Linked DNA regions of Homo sapiens. The protein of the gene in region 2 purifies or fractionates together with the protein of the main gene of each other region. This does not show direct contact. Each region holds a gene or a part of one and is shown on either strand. Other genes may lie near its edges. The genes, in order: SMC2 and ZNF3.

The links.
Region 1: the proteins of ZNF3 (region 2) and SMC2 purify together in Homo sapiens (co-immunoprecipitation; one large-scale study listed by IntAct). This does not show direct contact.

Annotation. Positions count from the first base shown.
Region 1 is NC_000009.12:104,111,121-104,114,942, reverse strand, and holds part of SMC2 (structural maintenance of chromosomes protein 2), read right to left. Parts: intron 3,363-3,822; coding exon 3,129-3,362; intron 1,628-3,128; coding exon 1,468-1,627; intron 980-1,467; coding exon 862-979; intron 253-861; coding exon 114-252; intron 1-113. UniProt on the Homo sapiens protein: Central component of the condensin complex, a complex required for conversion of interphase chromatin into mitotic-like condense chromosomes.
Region 2 is NC_000007.14:100,071,631-100,075,452, reverse strand, and holds part of ZNF3 (zinc finger protein 3), read left to right. Parts: exon of another isoform or gene 1-26; coding exon of another isoform or gene 27-191; coding exon 192-318; intron 319-3,240; coding exon 3,241-3,822. UniProt on the Homo sapiens protein: Involved in cell differentiation and/or proliferation.

The DNA.
Region 1 (3,822 bases), on a different chromosome or scaffold from region 2:
ATAAGTCACCTTAGGGGAGAGCCTTAAAACATCAAAGTATTTAATTCTTTTAGCAGCACATGACTTTTCAAGCTAACCAAATTTTAAATTTTTTAAAATTAAAATCAACTTACTTCTGTGTCTACTACAACATTGTAGAGTCGTTCTCCAGCCACTAATTCTAAAGCTGTGGTTGCAGAAGTGTCTTTCACACTAATCAGAGAAGCCACAAGTCCTTTCACACAATTTCTATTCCAGTTCTTCTCTGGATCCCTGAAATACAAAAGTTGACAAAAATTAATCTTAGATAATAAAGTAGAAAAAGTTATACTTTACTCATCAGGAGCTCTTTTGGACAACACATTAAAGTGAAATGAAAGTAGAATCAGCAAAATGGTTTTAACAAACCAAAAATTTTAAAATGTCCCAAATGACTAGCCAGCTGTTGTTTTTAAATCACAATAGATCTTTCAGTATGTTTCAATGTAGTAAGAACAACTCTGATGTTCTAATCCCTATAATACATATGATTACTGTAAATATTCCATAAAAAACCCACATAGCAAAACAAATTATAAGATGTAAATGTGGATATTTAACATTAATGATACAGTAACTCTGAAGACATTTTGAACTGAGATTAAATTTCCCTCATTTTAAGATTAGTGGCATCATTAGCCATTAAATTTCACAAGAATTTCCCTGCCAACATTTAAAACATTTCAACAAATGTTTAAAGGAAAAATACCAATGAAAGAAAAGCAGCTTACAACAAGTTTCATACAAAAATCTTGGTTTCGACAAAATTTTCACACTGCTTCCAGCTTAAATAAAAATGTCTTGATTATTACTATGTTAAAATTCAAGGCTTAAGTCTCTTACTTGTATGCAAATCGAAGATTGGGAAATCTGGCTAATAGAGCTTCATATGTTTCTTTCAATCTACCAATATCACGAGACAGCTGCCTGCGCTTTTCCAAAAGGCTTTCCTCTTTATTTTCTGAAGGATAAATCATAATAAATTAAAACCAAGTTTTAAAAGCTCACTCTACTGTTTTAAGGAAAATATTAGCAACCACTATTTCCAAAGCATGCAAAAAATACAAATTTCTGTAAGTATTAAAAAAGCATGCTGAACCTTCCTATTTCTATCCACTGTCAAACAGACATTATTTCCAACGGCAAATAACACAATTTTCATTCCAAAAAATAACATACAAACTGAATGCCTAATGTAGAAATACACAAATGACATTTTTGAGCTTTCAAATGATTGAAGCAGGAAATTCTCAATACTGAGTTCTCAAAAATTCAAGAGTTGTTTTATAATTAGGTATTTTTTGACGATATTTACAACACTTCTTATACTAATGCTTGTTAATAGGCTAAGAAATGTTTCCTACTTGCTTGCGTTCTTTATTTAAATTAGCTTTTTATCAAAAATCACTACCTCCTCATGATCTGATTATCATGTTTTTAAAGGCAAACCTTCATAATTTAGCTTTTTCATTTCAGCTTCAAGTTTTTCTTTAAGTCTTTTTACAGCTTCTAGAGCTTCTTGATCCTTCCTGTAGCCACTATCCATCTTCTTAACTTCAGCTTGTTTATTCTTTAATTCCTGTTGAGCATGCTTCAACTTCATCTGAGCCTGTGGCAGAAAAATGCAACAGACCATAGGATGTATGAGGCAGACAGTGCTAGTAATTAAATGGCCGAAGATTCAGATTGGTTTTACTAAGAGACCTTAACCTTCAAAGTTTAATTGTTTGGTCTCTTGGATTAGTATTTCAACAAATTAGTCATTTCCCAGTATTTTCTCCTCAAAAAACTACTCAAAGTATAAACTAATATATGATTAATATGTAAAAGAATTTGAAATTTAAGTCCGTATTTTTAATAAAATATGACATATTCAAATTGAAGGATTATATCGAATAACTGTCAGTAGCTGGTAATTAAAAAAAGAACGCTAGAAATCACAACTCTCGTTCTTTTCCTTTCCGCTTAGTTGTTCATATTTGTATGTGTATATATTTGTGAGTGCTATCTAATAACAGTAAAGAAACTGAATTGAGCAATAAGACGTAAGATTATACAGGAAAAGAAGCTAAACTGACAGAGAAACTTAAATGCTGAGTCTGATAATTAAATGCTAGAACTATTTAAATTACATGTGTCAGGCCTTCAAGAATTTATACACTTGAACACTGCTTCTTAAAACTATGAACTAGTATTCTAAAACCTAGATGGGGTTTTAGATGGGGGTATCCTCCAAAACTGTATAATGATGTATTTTTCCCAGTTCCCTTATAAAATAATAGACAAACTGAGAGTAGAGTACTTTAAAGCTTTTCTACTATTGAGAGTTCTTATAAATTTGTGACTATCATCTGTCATGCCTGAATGAAAAAGTTGCAAATATATAAAGAGAAAAACCTGAGGATTAACGCATAATCACACACATTTGTGTACATGTTTTAAAATCTGTGTCTTCCATTAAAAACAAAACAATGATGTGCCTGTGTACATGTATTTTTTCTGCTAGCAAAATTCTTATGTTCATAGGACTGTAAGTTGCACTACTATGTAAAATCTGAGAAACATTATAATAGACTGACAAGACTTTTAAGATTATGAAATCAGAGTAGGGAGAGCAGACTAGAATGTGGCTACATGTGAGGTAGAGATACTTCCTAAAAAAATGTAAAGTTTGAGAAACAAGGTTTTAAGAACTAGGTATGGCAGGCAAAGCAATGGGGAGGACAATCCTGTTTTCCTGTTAAAGCTTAAGACTTCAACATTATGTTATCAATAAAAAATAAAAATAGCCAAAAAGAGACAAGAATAAATGCATTAATCTCGAAAATTCCACACAATGCTGCAAACAGAACAAAGCATTTATTGCACTTACATACCGAATTAAGATAATTTATGTAGTACAGCATCTTCACAAATTAACATCACCAATATTTAGCAATCAACATATTTGAATTTCGCTGCATTAGGCATTAGAGTTGCAGAATAAAGTAAACAAACAAGTTCCTTGAGACTGATTATTTTCAACATTATGTAACAATTGCCAAAGCATAACATGAAAAGAAACTTCTTGGAAAAAAAAGCAATCACATAGTGCTAATGTCTCTATTTACCTGTTTGGCTTCTGTCTGAGCTTTACTTATATCATTTTTACAGGCCATCATTTGACCAGCAAGAGTTGCTTCTGCTCCATCTTCATTACTGGACAGGCCAGCGGAAACAGCATTGAAGTGCTGCTGTGCAGCTGCCAGAGCTTCAGCATCTTTATTACTTGCTTCTTGAAGGGCATGCAGTCCATCTGTTATCTTTTTAACCTCTTTTTCCTTTGCTGCTAAAGTTTTTGAGTCCTTTAGGAAGAGTTTCAAATGGAAAAATATTATATTTCAGGAAAAACACCCACTTTCTTATACGCATACCCTTATGTAATAAAATTCCATAGCAATTTGGAGTGAGCATAATAAAATAATTTAACCATCATAACTTTATAAATACTGAATTATCATTTTGAAATTCACTCTCAGTTTTTAGAATAAATATAACTCTTATACTACTGGTTCATTCCATGTTATAAATTAAATCCATGAGACATTGGGCTAAATAATAATTGCAGATTTAAACAAATCACTTGAAGGGACTAAAAATGAATTTCTAAAGCTGTAAAACTGAAATAACAGACATCCTACACTAGCTTAAAAGTAGAGATTTTAGAATTAAGAGCATGTATATGAAAATATTTTATAAACTGTCAAGAGCCATAAAATTTGAGCATTAAATAGTTTCAGAAAAAGTATTACTATTATGTAACAC
Region 2 (3,822 bases):
GGCCCATGGTTCTGTCCTGCTGAATCATGGACCCTCACCTTCTATCTTGGACTCCTGTCTCTCTTCCTCCACCCTGTCCTCCCTTCCTCCCTTCCCAAATGTGCATTTTTCACCCCATCCTCAGTGATTTTTTTGGTGCCGCCATTCACATTCCTCACCCTGAAATTGCATGCCAGCACGTGTTGTTTCAGGAGCTGGTAACCTTTGAGGATGTAGCTGTGTACTTCATCCGGAAGGAGTGGAAGCGTTTGGAACCTGCTCAGAGGGACCTCTATAGAGATGTGATGCTGGAGAATTACGGGAATGTGTTCTCACTGGGTAAGGAGTTATGCCTTGTCAACAAAACTCGCTGGTGTTTCTTTGCTTCTTCGTTTGCTAGTAACAATCTAGTCACTGAAAAGAGCTGTTTCAGCAGATTTTTTTTTTGAGGTGCAATGGCACAATCTTTGCTCAGTGCAACATCCATCTCCCAGATTCAAGTGTTCCCAGGTTCTCACCTCTGCCTCCCAAGTAGCTGGGACTACAGGCACGCACCACCACACCAGGCTAATTTTTGTATTTGTTTTGTTTTTTTTTGTTTTAGTAGAGACGGGGTTTCACCATGTTGGCCAGGCTGGTCTCAAACTCCTGACCTCAAGTGATCCACCCGTCTTGGCCTCCCAAAGTGCTGGGATTATAGGCATGAGCCACTGCACCTGGCCTAGGTAAGGATTGACTTAGTCTTAGGAAACTGTAAGAACAATAATCTTAACTCATTTATACAGCAGTCTGCAACTTATAAAGAGTTCTCATATATATTCTTTCATTTAATCTTCACAGTAACACATTAATTGAGGCAGCTAGTATTATTCCTCATTTTACAGGTAAGGAAAGTGAAAGTAGTCCAGGCGAGGTGGCTCACACCTGTAATCCCAACACTCTGAGAAGCTGAGGCAGGAGGATCACTTGAGGTCAAGAGTTCAAGACCAGCTTGGGCAACATGGCGAGACCCTGTCTCTACCAAATATCCAAAAAATTAGCCAGGCATGGTGGCACATGCCTGTAGTCCCAGCTACTTGGGAGGCTGAGGTTGGAGGATCACTTGAGCCTGGGAAGCCGAGGTTGCAGTGAGCCGAGATGGCATTACTGCAGTCCAGCCTGGGTGACACAGACCCTGTCTCAAAAAATAAATAAGTAAATAAAGTGGAGGTGAGAGTAGCGGTCTCAATGTCTTGTGCATGCATGGTCATCAGTTGGGCTGATGAGTGGCAAAACTTGGGGCCCAGTCTTTAACTCCAAATCTGGTACCTTTTTTTTTTGAGATGGAGTTTCACTCTTGTTGCCAGGCTGGAGTGCAATAGCGTGGTCTCGGCTCACCGCAACCTCTGCGTCCTGCGTTCAAGCAATTCTCCTGCCACAGCCTCCTGAGTAGCTGTGATGATAGGCATGCGTCACCACACCCAGCTAATTTTGTATTTTTAGTAGAGACGGAGTTTTTCCATGTTGGTCAGGCTGGTCTCGAACTCCTGACCTCAGGTGATCCACCTGCCTCGGCCTCCCAAAGTGCTGAGATTACAGGCATGAGCCACCGCGCCTGGCCAAATCTGATACTTTTTCCGTGTTATTCTCAGGACTTAATATATAATCCAGAGACTTTTCCGAAGGATTATCCCTGAACACATGAGGTGCTGCTCTTTGCCCACGTCTCTGTCCTCTCCTTCTCTGCTTCTCTGCTCCCCTTCTCTAACTTCTAGGGACCTGTTGCTTTGTTCAGGACCTAGTGCCCCTGCTGCTCTGTAGAAACTTAGAAAGGTTAAGAAATTAGGCCAGGCGCGGTGGCTCATGCCTGTAATCCCAGCACTTTGGGAGACTGAGGCGGGCAGATACTGAGGTCAGGAGTTTGAGACCAGCCTGGCCAACATGTTGAAACGCCATCTCTACTAAAAATACAAAAAAAATTAGCTGGGGGTGGTGGCATGTGCCTGTAATCCCAGCTACTTGGGAGGCTGAGGCAGGAGAATTGCTTGAACCTGGGAGGTGGAGGTTGCAGTTAGCCAAGAACACGCCACTGCACTCCATCCTGGGCGATAGAGTGAGACCTTGTCTCAAAAACAAAAACAAAAAAAGAAAGATTAATAAATTAGTTTCTCAACTTTTAGGATGTAGAATTCCTTGTCTCTCACCCCACTCTTAGTGGGCATTTTCCTGAGCAGAGCCAGGACGTCTTCCTAACTCTCATTTGAGACCTTCCTGTACATTTCCCTTCTGTCCCCGGCAGATCTGGGGTCTGGAATTGAGCTCTGGGACTCTCAGGGTGAGCAGATAAACCTCCTTGTCCCATGTCTCTCCCCATGAGCAGAATTCCCATTTCTGAATCCTGCCACCATCTCTCTGCTAGAATGAGAGGAAGAGCCAAGGGGCCTGGGTTTCAAAGGAACTGAGAGCAGAGAGGTCCTAAGAGGTACCTCTTCAGGTGAAGGAGAAACAGCCGTTCCCGTCCCTAACACACATTACCCTGTCTTTACTTTTTAAAATATCAATTAAGCTAAAAACGCAAACTCTCTGGACCCTTTACATTTATCCTCTGTGCCCAGAGTTGGCTTTAGAAACTCAAAAGGAGTGAAAACAGAGACGTCAGACACTGAGATTCTTTGCATAGCCTTACGTGCGAGCATAGCCTTTTATGCATAGGGCCCAGAGGCGGACTCAGTTGTCTTGCCGTTTCCATGGGCTTGGCATTTGTGGCGTGACGACAGCCATGATTGCTCTTCTTATGGGGCCATGGCAGCCACTAGCATCCTCCCCCTTGCTTGTTCCCGCGCTGCTGCTGTCTCTCCTCACCCTTCCCCCCTTTTCTCACCAACTGTCCTGTACTTGCTCTCCCTTCTTGCAGTCACTGTGTCCCCAGTTATATCCACTGCCCTGACCTCTCTAAAGGCTTTGTCACTTCATTAAGCAATATGACCTTCCTCTTCTAAAGTTGGTTCCCTGCCTCTCTGCCTGATCCGTCCTCCCCTCCACACACACTCAGCTTTCTTTCCACTTCCAGCTCTGTTCTCCTTGGTTTTGCTCTGCCCTGCCCCTTCCCTGTCTCCTTAGCCCGGCTGTCTCATTTTGCCTTAGCCGCACACATGTGGGGCAGGCCTCTTTGTAGGCATGTGCTTTTGGCACTGTAAGTATTCGTTACAATGATCCTGTCCTGTGATTTTCACTCTTTCTTCCCTAAGGAACAAGTGACATTTGCATTTTTTATTGTGTCAGATCGTGAGACCAGGACTGAAAATGATCAAGAAATTTCTGAAGACACAAGATCACATGGGGTCCTACTGGGAAGATTTCAAAAGGATATTTCTCAGGGTCTCAAGTTTAAAGAAGCCTATGAACGAGAAGTCAGTCTGAAAAGGCCGCTGGGGAACTCCCCTGGAGAAAGACTGAACAGGAAAATGCCAGATTTTGGTCAAGTGACAGTTGAGGAGAAGCTAACCCCCAGGGGAGAGAGAAGCGAGAAATATAATGATTTTGGGAACAGCTTCACTGTGAATTCCAACCTTATCTCACATCAGAGACTCCCCGTGGGAGACAGACCCCATAAGTGTGATGAATGTAGCAAGAGCTTTAATCGAACTTCAGACCTTATTCAACATCAGAGAATCCACACTGGGGAAAAGCCCTATGAATGTAATGAGTGTGGGAAGGCCTTCAGCCAGAGCTCACACCTTATTCAGCATCAGAGAATCCACACTGGGGAAAAACCTTATGAATGTAGTGATTGTGGGAAAACCTTCAGCTGTAGCTCTGCCCTCATTCTGCATCGGAGGATCCACACGGGGGAGAAACCCTATG